Linked DNA regions of Homo sapiens: region 1 is linked to region 2. The links come from fine-mapping of genetic effects on gene expression. A gene starts in region 2. The other region holds a variant in brackets. All regions are shown on one strand. Distances are between the middles of the regions. Region 1 overlaps PITX1-AS1 (PITX1 antisense RNA 1). Region 2 holds the start of PITX1-AS1 (PITX1 antisense RNA 1).

Region 1 (9,621 bases), 240 kb after region 2:
TCAGGGCTTTCGGCACTCTGAGGGCTCCATAATGCAGGTCCCTGTGGTGATACGAGACCAGTGCCTGACTACAGCGTAGGTTCCGGAAAAGTAAGGGGTCTTAACAACTAATCTAATCCTCCCCAAGCCCTTGTGGTGTGAGGTGGATACACTTACTGTCCCTGTGTTACAGCTGAGGAAACCTAGGCTCAGAGAGGTTGAATAACTTGTCCAATGGCATATGGATAGTAAGCGTATTTAAACCCATGTCTGACTCCAGAGCCAGGCTCTTCAGCACAGGTCACAGAAGTGGCAGGAATGCCTGCCTAAAGGAGCCGGGCCTGAGAGAGGGGGCCCAGCTCACTGCGGCCTCACTGCAGTTCCCTCAGGGTCAGGGGCTGTCTCGGCCAGACAGGAGAGGAAAGGGCACACCCGGTGGCACCTACACCCACTAAGCCATTTGAGGGGACAGGTCTCTTCTAGGCTAGGGAGGCTGCCCTTGAGGGCCCTACTGCCAGGCACATGGTGCTGGGGACAGAAGACAGGAAGCCTGGGCAGGCAAGCCCTCATAGAGAGTCCGTACTTGCACCCCAAGGAGCTTAATAAGACTAGGCTGGTCCTGCTGCGGCTAACAGAACCAGGAGCAAAGTCATGCCCAGCTGAGGGACCCCAAGGGCCATGGGTGGGAACTGGGACCCTTGTCCAGCGGGGAGGGCTGGAGCTGAGTCTGGAAGGATGAACAGGATGTGAGAGGTTTGCCCTCAGGAGAGGAGAGCATTGCTGCTGGGCCCTCAGGAGAGGAGAGCATTGCTGCTGGGCCCTCAGGAGAGGAGAGCATTGCTGCTGGGCAGAAAAGCCCAGTGGTGTGTTTGGGTTAAAGTCCTGGTTCTGCCCTATGTTACCCTGAGCAACTTGCTTAACCTCTCTGTGCCTTTCCTCACCTATAAGGACAATAATAGTGCATGTTGCATATGGTTGTTTTGAAGAGCAGATGAGTTAATGCAGGTAGAAAGCTGGGTCTGTACTCAGTGAACTAGGAGGTAACTGTGTGCTCGCTTTGGACTGCTGTTATTCTCAGCTGAGAAACATGAATGGCCACAATCTTGGGGGCATGGGAGGGGAAAGGGGACCAGTGACTTGAATTGTGAGTTGGGAGAGCCACCCTCATCCTCCTGACCTGTTTCCCTGGACCTCCAGCCCTTTTACCTGGGGTTTCCCCAGGGAGACACGTCAAGTGTTGTCCAATAAAATATTTCCTGGAGTTGGTGGTGTTCCTCCACCTGGACTGAAAGCTGAAGCTTGGCAGAGCCATCTTTCAAAAACGGTGGAGGGCTCACTGCATTCAACAAACATTGTTTGATTTTTCCCTTTCTGTGCAAGACACTGGGCTACGCTTTGGGGAGAAACAGCTGACCGGCTGAGTCTTTGCCCTCAAGGAGCTTGTGGTCAAGTGAGAAGTCAGGTAAATTCACTCATTCACGCTGTCACTCCGCCACCATTTGCTGCATGCTTACTTTGTGTCAGAGACCTTCCTAGAAACTGAGAACACAGCAGAGGACAGGACAGTTGGCTCCCGCCCTCAGATCCCACATGCTGGACTGGTGGTTTGCATCTCCAAGGTGGCATCAAGCTGCACCAGGTTTGGAGTGACCAACCTGACCTTCAGTCCCTACTTCCTGCCAAACATTGGGAAGCAGACAGTAGACAGTGTGGGAGTGGTTAATAGCTGGGTCTCTAGAATGGGACAAACCTGGTTTTGTGTCCTTGCTCTGCTGTTTACTGGCTGTGGGACCTTAGGCAAGTTACTTTACCTCTCTAGACCTGTTCTTTGTCTATGAAATGGGGGTAATGATACCTTCCTTATGGGGTTATGGTAAAGAGTAAATGAGATGATGTATGAAAAACATTTAGAACAGAGCTCAGCACACTAGTAGCACCTATTAAATGTGCACCTGTTAGCACTGCTGTTGTGGTTACTACTCTCTTGCTTTTAGGTGCTTCCATGAGACGGGGAGGACTCTCCCGTTTCTTATAGGACTTAATATTTAAGAAAGCATTTAATGGCTGGGCACGGTGGCTCACGCGTGTAATCCCAGCACTTTGGGAGGCCAAGGTGGGCGGATCACGAGGTCAGGAGATCGAGACCATCCTGGCGAACACGGTGAAACCCCGTCTCTACTAAAAATACAAAATTTAGCCGGGCGTGGTGGCGGGCTCCTGTAGTCCTAGCTACTCGGGAGGCTGAGGCAGGAGAATGGTGTGAACCCGGGAGGTGCAGCTTGCAGTGAGCTGAGATCGGGCCACTGCAGTCTAGCCTGGGTGACAGAGAGAGACTCGGTTTCAAAAAAAAAAAAAAGCATTTAATAAGTCAGGCACGTAATTCTTCAAAGTTGACTAATTTCCTGAGTTTATATGTAACCTTTAAAAATCAGAAAAAAAAGGATAACTCAATGGAAAGTTGGGTAAAGACTTGAGCAGGAAGTTCACAGAAAAAGAAGTATTTATAATCAAGCGAAAAGCTTATAAGCAAATGAAAAGAAACTTACATTTTTAAAAATGCCTATTAACACAGCAAGATAGCATTTAACTAGCAGGCTGATGAAAATTTAAAATTTGGTAATGCATTTTGTTGGAAAGGATGTGGGGAAACAGGCATGGTCAGTCAGGGCAGGGAGTGTAAATTGGTATAAGACTTTTGGAGGAAAGTTGGGCAATTTCTATGAAAAATGTACCATCCTTTTGATTTAGCAATTTTATATGTAGGAATTCATCTTATGGATATAGTCGTGTTCATAAATGAGTGCAGTGATATCAATTTAAGAACATCCATCATGTCACTGTTTATTACAGCAAAAAAAAAAGAACTGTAAATGTCCACAGAGAGAGGACTGATTAAACCAAGTACATCTATGCAATGGAATATCCTGAAGCTGTTAGAACATGAAGGGCCTATAATGTATTGAAGATCTTAACATATCATCAAGACATGTCAAGTACAGAAACAGAAAGGTACAGAGCATTATGTAGAGAATGTAGAGAATACTCCCATTGGTATTAAATGAAAGGTATATGTTCATACATATGTTTATATGTCTAGATTATACCCTCTTTGAATGCATAAGAAACTATTCACAGTGATTACCTTTAGACAGAGGTCTTGGGAGCCTGGCAGGGAGAGAGCCTTCTTATTCTACTTATGCATAGTGTCAGAATTTCTTATTATATGCCTGAATTACTTTTATAATTATAAAGGAAGAAGTCAAACCATGTGAACTACACATTAGTAGTTAAGAAATAAAATGCTGTTCCAAGTTTTGTGGGTGTGCTTGGACTGATAATGTTTTTCCTCTAAGATCCTACTAAGAACTATTTAAGAAATGGCTTTCAGGCATAGTCACCTATTTAGAAGGTTCAAGCATAAAATGGGGTCTTGCGGTGCTTGGACCAGTGTGAAACAGAAGGGGTTGGGTCTGAACTTGCCAGTGTCCAGGGAATCCTGTTCTTCCCAGGCCTTGAAGAATAGGCAGTGGGTTGTATGTTCTCAAGTCCCCCTGTTGAATTAGGATACACAGCTGCTGGGGTGAGGGCTGAGATCCGTCTGCGTCCTCAGAACCAACCCCACCCCTGTGCTGGTAAGCAGGTGTTCTCCAGGGGAGAGACCCTGGGGTCAGTCTGACTAAAATGAATCTTCCAAATGGGTGTGCAAATCTGCATTTCCTGTGAGGGCCATCCAGACAGTTTTCAAGTGTACGGAATTTGAGGAACAATGTATGCTTTCTGTGCTTGAATCTTTGGGAGCTAGCGGAGGCCTCTGTCGGGAGTGCAGTCAGACAGGTGGGAGCCTCTGGAAGAAGCCGCCTGTGCAGCTGGCCTGTGGCTTCTCATCAGGCACAGCAGCCATGCCTTTTTTGCTCTCATTCCCCACCCTGCTTCCCTTCCTCCTCCTCCTTTTTTTCTCTTAAAGTTTTTTTTTTAAATTAGTTTTTGTTTTACATTTAATTTCAAAATAAATGTTACCTTTGCACATAGTTTAGAGGGTAGAATAACTCTAGCATGCTTGTTGCAAACACACACGTGCAAGCACACAAAGTCCTGGACTTCTCCATCACCCCTCCACAACAATTTTCTACTATCTAGAGGCATCTACTTTTAGTAATTTAGCTAATTTTTAAAATATGTATCTCTAAATGTCATATTTATATTTCTGCTACTTGAATTTTCCATTTTCAGCATTGTGTATTGACTCCTCACTGGAGAAGAAGAAGAGTTAGCTGTTTTCCCCACTGCCTGTCGACACCCCTGCTTCCCATCTGCCATCTTTCCAAACAGTTATAGTGTAATTTTATTAGATCAATATTCAGTGATTATACTACTTTGACCCTGAAAACGCTGTTCACAGCTGAGCTGTGATGACTTGTACTTTCCTGATCCACATTTATTCCCTGGAGTTAATCTTTTTCCCCCTCTGCTTAGTTTTTTATGTATATGTCACCAATCCAACACCAAATTCTCCCCAAGTTGAATACAATTTGTCTCAAAATTATATCCACAATTCTGGTTCTACCAATTTCATCTTTTTGAGGACATCTCTCCTGGAACCTTTGGAGCTAGACTGGGTGCTTCCTAGGTCTGCTCTTCAGCTGTTGTTTGAGGACTACTCTTCATGAATATCTTGGCGATTCCTCAGGTTTCCTTTCCTACTAATCTTGTTTCCTGGGTTCCATGTTCTCTTCTTTCTTGAGTTGCTTCATCATTTTGA[T/C]GAAGCACATTTTTTTTTCATTAACTTACAAAGAGGTAAGCAATTTTTTTTGAGACCTTGCATGTCTGAGAATGTATTTGTTGTATCCTCATTATTATTTTTATTATTATCTTTTTTGAGACGGAGTCTTGCTCTGTCACCCAGGCTGGAGTGCAGTGGCACAACCTTGGCTCATTGCAACCTCCACTTCCCCGGTTCAAACAATTCTCCTGCCTCAGCCTCCTGAGTAGCTGGGACTACAGGTGGGTGCATGCTACCATGCCTGGCTAATTTTTTGTGTCTTTAGTAGAGACGAGGTTTCACCATGTTAGCCAGGTTGGTCTTGATCTCCGGACCTCATGATCCGCCCACCTCAGCCTCCCAAAGTGCTGGGATTACAGGCATGAGCCACCGCGCCTGGCCTGTATCCTCATTCTTTTTTTTTTTTATTATTTAAGTTCTCATTGTTAATTGATGGTTTGGCTGGGTATAGAATTCTAGGTTGGAGATACTTTTCTCTCAGAACATTGGTGGACTTGTGCCATTGTCTTCAAGCTTCCAGGATTGCTAAGAAGGCTATTGTGTGAAAACTGTTTGTTTCTCTCTTACTATTGGAGTTTTTCTTTGTCCTCGTTATTTTGAAATTTCAGAAGGTTCCTTGATTTGGATCTATTTTTGCTCATTGTGTGAGGCATTTAGTAGGTCTTTTCAATCTGGAAACTCACATCCTTCAATTTTGGTTATTACTTGTGAAAATTATTTCCTTGATGATTTTCTCTCTCATTTTTCTCTTATGTTCCACCCTCCTCCCTGACCCTGAACTCCTAGTATTTGAATATGAGATCTATTGAATTTTTCTCCCATATTCTTATTTTTCTCTTATTTTTCATCTTTTTGCCTTCTCTGTTTTCTAAGCCACTTCTTTAAATCTTTGAGATTTTTATTGCATTTATTTCTACCATCATTTAAAAACATTTCTAAGAATTCTTTTCTGTTTTCTAAATGTTCCTTTTTAAAATAGCATCTTGTTTCATAGATGTAATATTCTCTAATATTAATAATTTTATCAAAGTTTTCTTCTCCTTACCTATTTGTTTTGTACACTATATTTTCTACTAGGTAGTTTCCTCAAATGCCTAGTGATTCTTGGTTGTTGCTCATATTTAAGAGTGAAGGTAACTACAAAGCTGACCTGAAAGCTCCAGGTACTTGGGTGGGGCTGTTTGAATCATAAACTTCATGTAGTGTCATCTACCTGGGCTGTTTTCGTAGAAAATCCTCTATGTTGGTCTATGTTGGTATCTTTTTGGTCTTTTTTCTGAAACTAATCAGATTGCTTGGAGAAATCTTCTCCGGTCTTCTGCCTGGAGGATATATATCTGACTACCAGCATTCTGGGAGCTTAGCAGGCGAAGGCTCATCATCTCCTTATTCAATATGCATATTAGTCCTTTGGGGCTGCCATAACAAAATATGACAGACTGTGTGGCTTAAACAACAGAAATTTATTTTCTCACAGTTTTGGAGGCTGGAAGTCCAAGATCAAGGGGTCAGCAGAGTTGGTTTCTGGTGAGGCCTCTCTTCCTGGCTTGTAGACAGCAGCCTTCTCACTATGTCCTCCATGGCTTTTCCTCTGTGCCTGTCCACAGAGAGAGAAAGCTTGCACTCTTGTGTCTCTTCCTCTCCTATAAGTAGACTAGTCCTATCAGGGCCCAATCTTTATGACCTCATTTAACCTTAATTACCTCCTTAAAGGCCCTATCTTTAAATATGGTCAAACTGGAGATTAGGGCTTCAACATATGGATATTGGTGGGGGGACACTATTCAGTCCATAACAGCATGTGAAACTTCACTTAATCTTTCTGTTTTCATTCTGATACATCCACCTTTAACAGTGCTTGGTGATCTTAATACTATTTCATCCTTTCCAGAAAATAATCTTATGGTCTTCTGCAGGAGTGGTGAAGAGGCTGTCATCTGGCTAGACGGAATGACGATAGGTATCTGAAGGTTTGGCAGATTCCTAAACCGATTGTAAACCAATCCTCCTCTTTTTAGATGCACATTGGTCTTCACTTCCAGAGATAATGTTGTGGCCATTTCCTGACTAGTTGATTTTTGACTTTTATTACTGTTGATTTAGGAATAAATTGTTTAGATCAGCTAAATTGGTTACCACTTGTCCAGCTTCCAAAATGTTCTTCTTGTTGTATTCTTTCCTGTTCTCATTGTCCATGGGGATTATACCATAACAAAATTCTTTTGACTGTTAATTAAGTGGTGTTTCTCGAGGGAGTACAGGTAAATGTATGTTTAATTCCCCATCTTTGACTGGAAGCTATATGTCATCTTCTGTTGAAAGCAAATAGAAGCCCGTCGGACAAGTTAGCTTTGATTCCAAGTCCATTTCTCCCTCAACTCTGGTGTTTTCACAAAATGTCTCTATCTTATTCAAATATGTTTGATTTTGCTGCATGATGCATTGACTGGCTTTTGAAGATGAGTGGTCTGATACCACTTGACCAAAAAATAGGGAGCCCACTCTGAGCTTATCACATGGATGCAAACGTCTTAATAAACTCAGAAAATGGTTTGTGTTTTCAGTTGAACAAAGCCTCCATATTTTCCTGAGTGCCATTTCCCTACACTTTAAAAGTTGATATATTTCCAGGGGAATCTAATCCATATGTTTCTTTCTTTCTTTTTGCTTTTAATACATCATAATATTGCTTCATAAAGCATTATTTAAGTCAATAGTCTTTATTAGCTTTTTTTAAAGCAAGGCTTTTACCTTAGCTTTTATTTAGAACCACATTTTTTGAAAACTTTGCAACCACAAAGTTGAGCTGAGCCCACAAAGATCTGAGTTACATTTGAAATTTTGAGTTTTGTTGGGTTCTAATTAGGGCAAAGCCATGCTCTCTAAAACCACATTCTCAGCTGAGCAAATCTGCACCCAGAATCCACTCCGCGAAGTATCTTATTTTGTGATATTTTTGGCCAATAACCAAAGCAGATATTTATTTAGGACCCGCAGCACACCTATCATTGTGGCTCACTATGTGGTCTGGAAGACAAGAATAGAAGCACCAACCTAGTTTGGGAGACTGGGGAAGAAGGGAAGGGTGTATCCCTTCTTCACTACACACTGTGTGCCTGATAGTGGACTAGCCACTTTGCCATTATTGATTTAAACCTAAGAATAAGCATTATTTTATCTACGTCGAATCCTTGTAATAAGTCCTCAGGATAAATGTTAAGTATTATCCCCATTTACATAAAAATAGTACTGAGGCTCTGGAAAGTTACTAAACTTGCCCAAGATTGTGCACTAATAAGGGATAGAGTCTGGTTTGGAACACAGGCAGGATCCCAATATATATAAACAGAATCCTGAGAAGAGGAAAATGATCAGGTACTTGGCATGGATGGCTGTCGATAGTGTTTGTAGAATTAGTGCAATGGGTCCCATGGTGCAATACTGTAAAGGGGAGAGAGGAGATTTATGAGGGCTGTCATCCCAAGAGAAGATGCTCTAGAGAAGACTATCATTCCAAATCTGTCTCATTCCCCACTGCTGCCACTGCGTCCAAGTCGCTGCCGTCTCTGCCCTGGGTAACTGCTGCAGCCTGCTGACTGCTCTCTGCCCATACTCCCTCTAGCCTGACTGTCTATTCTCATGCAGCAGCCAGCATGATCACTTTTTTAAAAAATCTGAAGCAAAATTTACCTACAGGGAAATGCATATAGCTTAAATATGTAACCTGATGAATTTTGACAAATATACACACCTTTGACCAACACCAGAGCCAAGACATAGAACACTTTCATTACCACTGAAAGTCCCTTGTGTCCCTTCCAGTCAGTCCCACCTACTTCTAATAGGCAACTATTCTTATTTCTAGCACTATAGGTTAGCTTAGTCTATTCTTGAGTTTTATGTAAGTGAAGTCACACAGTATGTACTCTATGTACTCATTTGTGTCTGGTTTCTTCATTCAGCATCATATTTTGAGATGCATCCATACTGTCACATGCATCAGTATTTCATTATTTAAGTTGTTGAACAGTATTTTCATTGTATAAAAATACCTGTTTGTTTACTGATTTTCTTTTTGAAGGAGGTTAGGTTGTTAACAGTCTGAGGCTATTATGAGTGAAGCTGATACAAACATTCTTGAACAAGATTTAAAAAAATTCAACTTTCATATTAGATATGGGGGTACATGTGCAGGTTTGTTATATAGGTATATTGTGTGATGCTAAGTTTTGGGGCATGGATCCTAATATGGTATGGCTGTGTTCCCACCCAAATCTCATCTTGAACTGTAGCTCCCACAATTCCCCTGTGTTGTGGGAGGGACCTGGTGGGAGGTAACTGACTCATGGGGGCAGGTCTTTCTAGTGTTATTCTCATTATAGTGAATAAGTCTGATGAGATCTGATGGTTTTATAAAGGGGCATTTGCCTGCACAAGTTATCTTCTCTTGTCTGCTGCCTTGTGAGATGTGCCTTTCACCTTCTGCCATGATTGTGAGGCCTCCCCAGCCACGTGGAACAGTGAGTCCGTTAAACCTTTTTCTTTTGTAAATTGCCCAGTCTTGGGTATGTCTTTATTAGCAGCATGAACACGGACTAATACAGATCCCTTCACCCAGTTAGTGAACATAGTGCCCAATACGTAGTTTTTCAACCCACATTCCCCTCCCTCCCCCCACCCAGTAGTCCACAGTGACTATTGTTCCCATGTTTATGTCCATGTGTGCTCAATGTTTAGCTCCAACTTATAAGTGAGAACATACGGTATTTGGTTTTCTGTTCCTGCATTAATTTGCTTAGGAATATTGTCTCCAGCTGCATCAGTGTTGCTGCAAAGGACATGATTTCATTCTTTGTTGTGGC
Region 2 (9,621 bases):
GGCTGCACTAGGCCGCTGAACTGCGGCACGTAGCCACCCTTGCACAGGTCCAGCTGCTGGTTACGCTCGCGCTTACGCCACTTGGCTCGCCGGTTCTTGAACCAGACCTGGGGGAGGGGACGGGAGAAGGGTCAGGGCCGCTGCGGGCCGGGAGGGACCCCACCCCCTTCCCCACCGCCTGGAGCCTTCCGTCGGCCCGCTGCCCTCCGAACGTCGTTTCTCTCCTTCGACCGATATTTCCGCTCCTGCATTCCCTCCACAATGGTTCCTTTCCTGTCCCCAGAAAATACTAATTTCTTTTTCCGATCTTTATCCTCTCCCGAAATTATATCCGTTTTCTTCTCCGAATACGGATTCTCGTTTAACAGATATTCGTTTTCTTTCTTCCTCTCTCAACCAGTTCACCTCTGCCTTCTCCCCCAAACAGGTTCGCTCTATCTACTAAATATTTCAGTCTTTTTATTCTCCCTCAAATACAAAAGGTATTTTTCCTCCCTGAGACATAGGACTTTCCGACTCCCCCAATTCTTCGATCTATTTCATCGCTCAAATAGTTTGTTATCATCTTTATCGGCAATATTTGATGTTTTCTTTTTGGCTCCAAATGTTTATTTTCGTTCAGTCCACCCCACTGTCTGAACCTCTTTCTTCTCCCTCAGTCTGTTTTCTTGTTTATCCCCCATTTTTGATCCTTTTGAATCGTCCTCAAATATTAGGCTTTTGAATCCTTTCCAAATATCTGACCTGCACTGTTCCCCTTAAACAGTTGATTCTTTTTCTCAAATACCTGATCTTTTTGCTTCCTATTTAATTTCTTTCCTGCCGCCTAAATATATGCCAAATATGTTTCTCCACAAATATTTAAATTTTTTCTATTCTTACTAGATTCTTCTAATCTTCCTGCCCTTCCTTTTCTCCCCCCAAATTTGGTAAGAACCTCCTAGTCCTCCCCCATCCTTACCTATCTGCCTACCGCATGCCCTCTGCCCACTCGGATTTTCCTCCAGTTCTGAGTGGAGTTTCCTGAGCTAGTTTGCCAGATCCCTGCTTCTCAGCTTTCCCTAGTCCCCAGCACTGACACTACCTGATTCCACCCCCACCCACCCCTACCACCATAAACCTGGGCAGGATTAGTGAGTTCAGGATTACTGAGTGCTGTGTCTTCATTCCAAGTCCCACTGGGCTGGCCAGCCTGCCTAGGGAGGGGTGAGGGCTGGGGTTATGGTAAGGAGTCTGTGGGCCAGCTGGGATTTTGGTCGACTTGGGAGGTGCTCCCAATATCTGATTAAATATTTACGCCCCCAGGGAAGAAATGATTCTCTTGCTACCCTGGCAGGAAAGCCTTGCTTTTACTGGAAACCAAACGGGTGAGAAGAGGGAGAATGCAGGCTGGTCTTGGGTCTGAGATGGCATATCCTAAAAGGGACTGGGAAGGACATTTGGCTCCCGGAGCCACCCCCCACCTCACCTGACGGGAGACCTTCCGGAAAGGGCAGAAGGCAAAGGGTCCTACTGATGGCTGGGGAGGGTGGAGAATATCTTGAGCTTTTAGAGAATCTGCTTATGAGATGGGACCACTGCTCCAGGAAGTTTTGAGAGCCCCAAACCCAGGCACCTTTCAGGCTTCTCCGAGGCAGCCAGACAGGACCTGCCTTTCCCTTTCGTTTTCGGGATAAGGCCAACAGCTCCCGAGGTCCCCAGCGGCAGGGAATCCACTGCCCAGTCTCTGGCCCAGGGTATCCTGCTAACATCTGAGTGGGTCCTGGGCCCCATAGGGCATGGGGGAGTCCCCTGGGGGCACAGGTCTTTGGGCTGGGGTTGCCTTAGTCCGAGGATCAGGTAGGATGAGGGTCAAAGGGGTTGAAGGTCCGAGGCGCCTGGAGGCCTGGCAGACGCTAGTGGGCCAGGGCCTAAGGTGGGGATCTCCGGTGGAGGGAGGGAGCAGGTCTGAATGGTGGGAGAGTGAAGTTCTGCTTGTGGGTCTAAGCTTTGGAGGGCTGCAGCAGAGGCGGCCCGGGAGCCCTCTGCGCGGGTGCCCTTAGGCGCGCACCCCTTGCTCACCCGCACGCGCGGCTCGGTGAGGTTGGTCCACACGGCGATCTCCTCCCTCATGCTCATGTCGGGGTAGCGGTTCCTCTGGAACGTGGCCTCTAGCTCTTGCAACTGCTGGCTTGTGAAGTGCGTACGTTGCCGCCGCTGCTTCTTCTTCTTGGCTGGGTCGTCTGCGCCGCCGCAGCCCGTGCCTCCCGCACCACTGTCCTCGGGCCCCTTGGGTTCCCCGCCGCGCTCCTTCTCTGCAGTAGGCAGGACGGGGAGCGGGTCACCTGGGCTTACGCCCCGTTGCACCCCGTCCCGGCTCCACCGAACCGCTCGCCACCAGCGCTGGCGGTCTTCCCTCCCTCCCTCCCTCTAGGGTTCCTGGGAACTGTCCCCACTGGAAAGCGCCCGCCGGGTGCTGGTCGTCAGTAGGCACCTCTAGTCTGGTGTGCCGCGGAGAAGAGCCCAAGAATCGGAGCTGGAGCCGCGGGCCTGCGTTCCTGGCTGGGCAGGGCCTGCACCCTTAGCTCGGCTCAGATTCTGACCCTGCTGCTGATGTTCCCAGCAAATGTATGCTTTTTGTTTGTTTGTTTTGCGAACTCTTAGGGGGTCTAAATCTGAGGGGGTCTCTGCTTTTCTGAACTAGGATCAGATCTCTCCAGCCTAAAGTCCCTCCACTTTCTTCTCCTCAGGGGTGTATGGGAGCCCCACTGGGCAGGCACAACACAGCCGGGTTCTCGGCCTTGCTTCCAGGCCTCCAGTCCCAAAGCCTAGAAAACCCCACCAACTGCAGCCCAGACAGACAGACTCTGTCTAGGTGACCTCGGGCTTTAGTCTGTCTCTCTTTGAAGCTACACAAAACACACGCAGTCATAGAAACATTAATACATAAAGAAAAAGAGTTTAAAAACAAAACACAGAAGCCCAGAAAAGCTCACAGCTCTATGCCTAAAGACACTGAAAGGGCCACAAATTCTCAAAATCAGACAGGAAGAAACACAGAGCAAATGTAAATTAAGAAGCCAGAAAGCTCCGTACAAACACACCCCTAACTAAATACAGAGCTGTAAGTGTATAAACTCCAGGTTGACAGAAGCATTTATTTCTCTGGGATTTAAAAAAATAATGTACCGTTGTAGATAGATTTTTAACTCCTTCCCAATAAGGCCCTTGTAGAGATAATTTTTAAATCCCAGAGAAACACATTATAGTTAGATAATTTAAATTCCCCAAATAACACCACTGTAAATGGATTTTGAGAAAATTCCGGAGAAACGCGCCATTTTGGATTGACTTTTTAAAATCTCCGGAAGAATAATGTTGCATGTAGATATTTTAAATTCCAGACCTACACTTCGTACGTTAATTCTTTCAGAATCGAAAGATACAGTTAAAATTAATTCATCCTCATAGATTTGGTTCAAAAAAATCAATATACGATTATATATCTCTCTAGGTTTTAAAAATAAAACCAACCAAAGACCGCGCTTAAAACTTTTGAAAACAAAAGTAGAGTTCAGCGTTGATTATGTTTTAACCAAGCAAACAACCTCTCAGAAAAATCACTTAGGGATGCAAAAGAGAAACAGATACTAAGAAAGTGGAGAGAAACATTCAGCTGTGTATTAAGAAATGAACGCAGAAGAGGCGCCCACACCGGGGAGCTCGGAGCCCCTCCGGAACCCGGCCGGCTGCGCTGGGCAGCGGATTCGCTGCCCCACTGCCCGCGCCGGCCACCCGCGGGCCCAGTTCGCTGCTGGAAAAAAGCTCCAGCTCGGACAAAAAAAGGCAGCGCGGAGGGAGACGCGCAGGAGCCGGGGCGGGGGCCAGAGCCGGGCTGCTCCGGGCTTCGGCCGCGCACGTGGGCCGGATCCCTTGATCGGCGTTCCGGCTGGCCTTGCTGGGAGTCCGGCCGCGCCTGTTGGCCCGCTCGCCCTCACCGTCCTCTGTGTCTCCCTTCTACTTGATGACCCCTCTCCCCCCGTTTACCCTTCCCGCCCGCCCCTTCTCTTTGGTCTCTTTCATTCTGTCGCCTACTGTCACGGTGTTAACCTCCCTCTCTGTCTCTCTGAGTGCGTTCTCTCGCCCGTCACCCCTCTTCCTTTCTCGGTCTCCTCCTCTCCCTTCGTCCGAGCCGCTCCTTAGCGCCCAGTTGCGCAAATCAAATTCTTTCCCGTTCTATTTACTCCTGATCAAGAGGGGCTGTCAGTCCAACCCTCCAGCTGTAGGCTCGTGCATCTGCCAGTCTCTTGGCGCGTGGGGACCGCGTGGAAGTGCCTTCGCGTGTGCGTAAGTTTCCGCGTTCACCGTCAGGTCGAGAACGGGAAAAAGAAAGCTCCTGACGCTTCTGGGGCGGAGAGGGAGCTTGGTTGCGCGGCGCGGGCGTCAGGCCCTGCTCCCAGCTCCCCGTGCTCCGCGCCCGGGTAGGCTCTGTGCGCGCCGCGCGGGGAACGGCGCTTACCTGGCAGCTCCGTGTCAGACGACTCGCTGGCGGAGTTCTCGAGCGGCTCGCGGGGGTCGGCGGGCCGGGCCAGGTGGAAGGCGGGCCCCATGTCATGGGGTGGCGGCGGCGGCGGCCGGAGCCCCTCCGGCAGCCGCTCCAGGCTCATGCCCCCCTTGAAGGCGTCCATGGAGGTGGGGACCGCGGCGGGCGCTCCAGGGGCCGGGGCTGGGCGCGCCCCGCCGCCCTGGCTGCGACCTGCGGGGACAAGAGCGCAGCGCCTAAGCGGCTGCCCTCCAGGGCTGCCGGCGCCTGCAGCGACGCCGTGCCCGCCCCATGGACCGCCCGGGGCTGCGGCGCCGGGCGGGCAGAGGCGGCGGCAGCTTCTCGCGACTGGGCGCCTGGCTCAGCGCTCCGCGCTGCGCTCCTGCCGCTCGGGCCTCAGCAGCCCGGCCGGCCCCGGCTCCGGCTCCGGCTCCGGCTCGCGATCCGGGGCCGGTTTCTAAGGCTCCGGACGGCGCCGGCAGAGTCTGTCTTAAAGCGACAGCGCGCACAGCCAGGTTCCAGCAGTCCCTGCGCCAGGGGTGCTGGGTGGGGTGGGCCTGGGTGGGAGGGGGCTGGGGAGGGAGCGAGCGAGCGAGGGAGCGCGGGCGGAATCCAGCCCCAAGCCGCCCGCGCCGCCGCGCCCTCACTGCCGCCCTCCCTCCCTCCCTGCCTCGCCCGCGCCCTCCCCCTCCGCAGCCACCTTCCCGCCGCCTCCCCGCCCCCCGCGGCCTCGCCGCGCCTCTCCCTCCTTCCCCGGTGACACACCGAGTTCTCCCTCGGCCTCACAAAAGAAACGCATCTGGCCTGCGAGTCCCGGGCGGCTCGTGCACACCTCAGGCCTCAAATGACTTGTTTCGCCTAGAATCAACTCCCGTCTCGGCCGCCTCGAAGTCCCCAGCCCTGGCGAGAACAGCCCAGGATGAGTGAATGTTTGCCGAACAGGATCGCACCGAGCGGGCGCCTTCGAGCCAGCGCCGGGGCGGGGGCAGAGCCCGGGGCCCGTTCCGGCAGCTCCCAGCGGTGTCCTCGTCGAGGGGCCGCCTGCCCCTCCTTCTCCAGCCTCTTCTCCCGGGAACTCAGCCCGGCTGAGTGACAGCAGCCTGCGCTCTAATGGGCCCCCGGATGCTGCCTCCTAATTAGCTTGGACCTTCTCCCCTACGGCTGCTTCTCAGGCCTCCCTCTCTGCACCGCAGTCAATTTTCCGGGATTGGGATAGAAATGATGGCTTCTAATCAGACGAAACGTTTCTGCTGGCTCTAGGCGTTTGGAGAATGCAGAAGGAAGACCCCAAGGATCCCAGCCAGACCCCACAGCCTCTTGTACCTCTCCCCTTGTTTTACACCTTAGGCCTTGGCCAAATGGGCCAGGCCTGGCCTTGGCAGGCATGGGGTTGGCCTTGGCAGCCTTTGCCCTCCTTCAGGGTAGCTTTGTCCCAGCCTGGGGCCTGCGTCCTGGCTTCCCAGGGCTTCAGGCATAGGCCTGGTAAGCCAGGTGACTGCTGTCTCCCAACCCTGGGCCAGCAGCCCAGGAAGCCCTCAGTCTTCCAGCTTCTCTCCCACACAGTGGTAGCTGAGCTGCAGCTCCAATGGGCCTTCACTGGGCACAGGCAAAGACATTACTCTCCCACTCCTAAGAGTGATTCCCTCCTCGAGTCCTTGCACGTAGGTGAAGTTTGTCGAAGGATTTTGCTCAACAATTGTTAGCTGGCCCCGAGACCTCAGCGTCTTGAGCAAACAGGCCACAGCTGGGGCGGCAAGGCGCCGCCCTGACCTGCTCCTCTGGCCATAGGCGGACCCCAGACTGCCCTCTGCCCCTCACCTGTGATCAGCTCCACCAGACACAGCAACCCAAGGGAGCTGCGCCAGGATTGTCTGCCTGGGAAAGAAGCAGGGAGGTGTCCAGTGTCCTCACCCCAAAACCCAGTGCCTCCTCAACTCCTGGGTGGGTGGCACTGACTGTGCAGGTATCAGCGTCTGGGGCACTCTGCAGGTTCTGCCTTTGAGTCCTCGTCTTACCCCTTCCCATCACAGGGAGACACCCAGGGTCAGCTGAGCTCCTTGTGGGGGCTGCTGGGGCCAGGGTCGGGCATGCAGGGTGGAACCAGGCCTGCCTTCCATTCCCTCCACGTTAGTCCAAAGCACCCCCACCCCTACCCCCATCCCCATCCCCATCCCCATCCCCATCCCCATCCCCATCCCCCGCTCTGGGCCGTGGAGAGACAGCACAGCTCCTTAGGGCCTGGTCCTTTCTCACTGTGGGTCTGTGACCACAGGATGCAGGGTCTGAGGCCAGAGGGAGGACACTTCTCAGGGGTTTGGATTGGGGAGGCTCAGTGACTCCTGCCTTCTTCCAAGCTGAGATCTCCCTCCATGAAATGAGTCTTGGCTACGGGGAGGGGAACATGGGGAAGCACAGTTGCCCAGCATTTGCCCTCAGCCCCACCGTTGCCATGTTTCTTGGCCACCTTTACCACGAGTCTCCTGCAGTAGAAGATCCCTCCTTTCAAGGAGATATTCAGGTGTTGCAGCGTGCTAGGGAGTGTCCCTTCACAGACCATTCTTTTTTTAGCTGTCTTACCAAAAAGAACAGCCTGAATGCAGACAGCATGGGGGCACGCACACACACACACATCCTGTACATCCATGCGGAGATGCTGTACACACACATGTATTCACTGCACTATGGAAGTGCTGAGTTTAGGCATATATGTGCTACTTGGCATGAACGCGGGCTGGCAGGGGATAGGAGGTGTGTTCTAACCCTGCCACATGTCAGGCCAAGGTGGGAAGCACAGTGCGTCTCTGGGTAGAGACTTAGAAATGAATGGTCTGTCTGTGGGCCTCTAGAGGAGGTTAAGACTCACAGCCTTCTCACTTGCCTTCTCACTTCCCAGAGGGACCAAAGTGACTCTTTGGGCCATCCCCCAATGGGGACTATTCTGTGAGCAGCACTCACTGCTTAGTCTGAGGGGCGTGTTTCCTCACTGTTAGTGCATTTAATGCAGTTATTGAGCACCTGCTGTGTGCCCCTCTGGGCCCAAACCTCTGGCAGGGCTCCAGGCAGGCACAATAGTCCCTTTATTTGGTGATCTTGATGCCTGCTGTGTAGAAGGAAAAGCCCTCAGACCATTTCAGGTGAAGCCCCATATCCTCAGGGGACCTGAGACCCAAAGAGGAGCTGGGGCTAGTGGGGCCTGCTGGCAGAGTCTGTTCTGCTGGGCCTGGGCAGCACTGAGTGATCAAGGAGTGAGGAGGCAATTGATTGTGAGGAGGCTGTGGCCTGATCTTGGGCGTTGGCTGGGGAAGGGACCTGGACATGCTCTCAATTCTTCCCCAGCTACACTCACTGGCCATTGTCCCAGTCAAGATAGGGGCTTCTTGCACGCTCACAGACACGTCACACATACAGGACAGAAAACAGCACTCTTTCAGGAGTAAGCAGAGGCTTTGTGTTCCCCCAGCTGTGCTATGTGACCTGTGTTTCCCTCAAGGTTAAGGCTTGATCTGCACTGTGCCTCAGTTCCCATGTCCAACACCGGACTCTGCCTGCTGCTTCAGCATCCAGCTCACTTGCTGATGGGACACGAAGAGAGGAGGGAAGGGGGCTTAGTGGAGCTGGAACCATGTGCCCTGTTCCCCACCCCTCCGTGACCACACAAAGCCAGCAATGATTCTCTGATTTTCAAGAATTTTGGAGTTTAGGGTCTTGGCTGGGCTGAGCAGAAGAGCTTGGGCTGTTGTGGGGTTGAAGTAGTCACCATGAGGACCCTTCCTGAAGCCTGGCTCACTAAAAACACCCTGTGCCCAAGAATGGTTTAGTAATGTAATTTGGGAAGGGTGGTTGGAAGGCTCTCAGTGGGGGGGCATCCTTCTACCCACCCACGGGGGCACCGTGCCCTAATCCTTGCTCCCAGAATCAAGGTATTTTAGGAAAAAGGAAGGAATGTGCCATGGCCTGCCACCAGGGCTATCCATGACTCTCTGGGACATTCCAGCCCTAAGCCTCTTAGTCCGTGGAGAAGTTCAAACTTGAAAACCCTGTTTTGGGAGTGCAGGTTTGGACCACCTACCTCTTTCTGCCTGATCTAACACCCCCTCCCCAATAAAAGCTCCCGTTTCTTTGAATACAGCAATTACTGGGTAAGTGGGGAGGAGGGTGCTCAGGTAGGGGCTGGAAAGACCTCACTGGCTCCTTTAGGCTTCCTGGGACCCCAGTCTGAGGCTTCCTGCCAAATGGGGATCCCCAGCCTGTCCCGGGGAGAGCCAGGATGTATTTGAGCAGGACTGCCGCCAGTGAGGCACAGATGGGAGTATGGAACTCAGGACTCTGTGCCGTGGGCCGCTCAGTCAGCGGCTGGTAGGACCCATGGCTCTACCCGGCCCATCTCTCACCTAAGTCCATGGACGCTGTCTGGTTCCTGAGAATGGCTGAGCTGTGGGGAAGAAGACTAGGAAGGAGGTAGCAGCTGGTCGCACAACTGGGGAGCAGAGGGGCAACTTATGGATGCACCATAGCCTCCTCCTCCCAGCGGCTGCTTTCATGGGAGAAGAGCACCCTGAGCCTGTCTGGAGGCCTCTGCATCCTAGAGTCCAGACAGCCTGGTCTCCAAGCCCCAGCCCACCTCTTTTCCTTTCCCTGGAAGAGATGCGGGAGGCCGAAAGCAGCCCCGGGAAAGGGCACGGGGACAGCAAGTCTCCTGTGCTGCCCCTGCTGCCTGTAGCTTTTGCCCTGACTACCGTAGACCTGAACCCTAGACCTGAATCCTCCCCCAGTGGACAGCAACCTGGGATTTCCTCCCTCTGGCCCTGGTGGCTTTCAGAGGTCACAGGGATGTCAAGAGAATTTGTGTTTTTCAGAATTTAGTTTTTCAGAAAAGTGGACTAAATATTTGTAGATTCGGGGAATTCCTAAATCGGAAAAGCTTGGGACCCGGATTCCAGCCTGGGGTTCCCATTACTGCGATCCCGGCTTTGGGGCCCTGCCTTTGCCGCGGGAGAATAGGCTCCAATTTACGAAGCTGGTCAATTTCAGAAATCCGAGACCCGGTTCTTGAGAAGCGACTGCGTGCTCCGGGACCCTGCGTCAACAACCAAACCTGG

Evidence for each region. PIP is the estimated chance that this variant, and not a neighbour inherited with it, causes the effect.
Region 1: its variant is fine-mapped to the expression of PITX1-AS1 in whole blood (INTERVAL, PIP above 0.99).

Annotation. Positions count from the first base shown.
Region 1 is chr5:135,272,652-135,282,272 of GRCh38, forward strand. All of the region lies in intron 3 of PITX1-AS1 (PITX1 antisense RNA 1), which reads left to right. Among named protein-coding and RNA genes, the nearest start is that of LINC02900, 29 kb to the left of the region's middle. The variant T/C (reference allele first, on the strand shown) is at 4,739.
Region 2 is chr5:135,029,215-135,038,835 of GRCh38, forward strand. It overlaps PITX1-AS1 (PITX1 antisense RNA 1), which reads left to right and starts at 4,060. Exons shown (of 6, transcript NR_161235.1): 1 at 4,060-4,326. PITX1 (paired like homeodomain 1) reads right to left here and starts at 5,014. Exons shown (of 3, transcript NM_002653.5): 1 at 4,499-5,014; 2 at 2,062-2,294; 3 at 1-107. The coding sequence starts at 4,667. EPIST (esophagus epithelial intergenic associated transcript) reads right to left here. Exons shown (of 2, transcript NR_105050.1): 2 at 9,617-9,621. RefSeq lists enhancers at 1-573, 3,898-4,530 and a silencer at 2,520-2,727.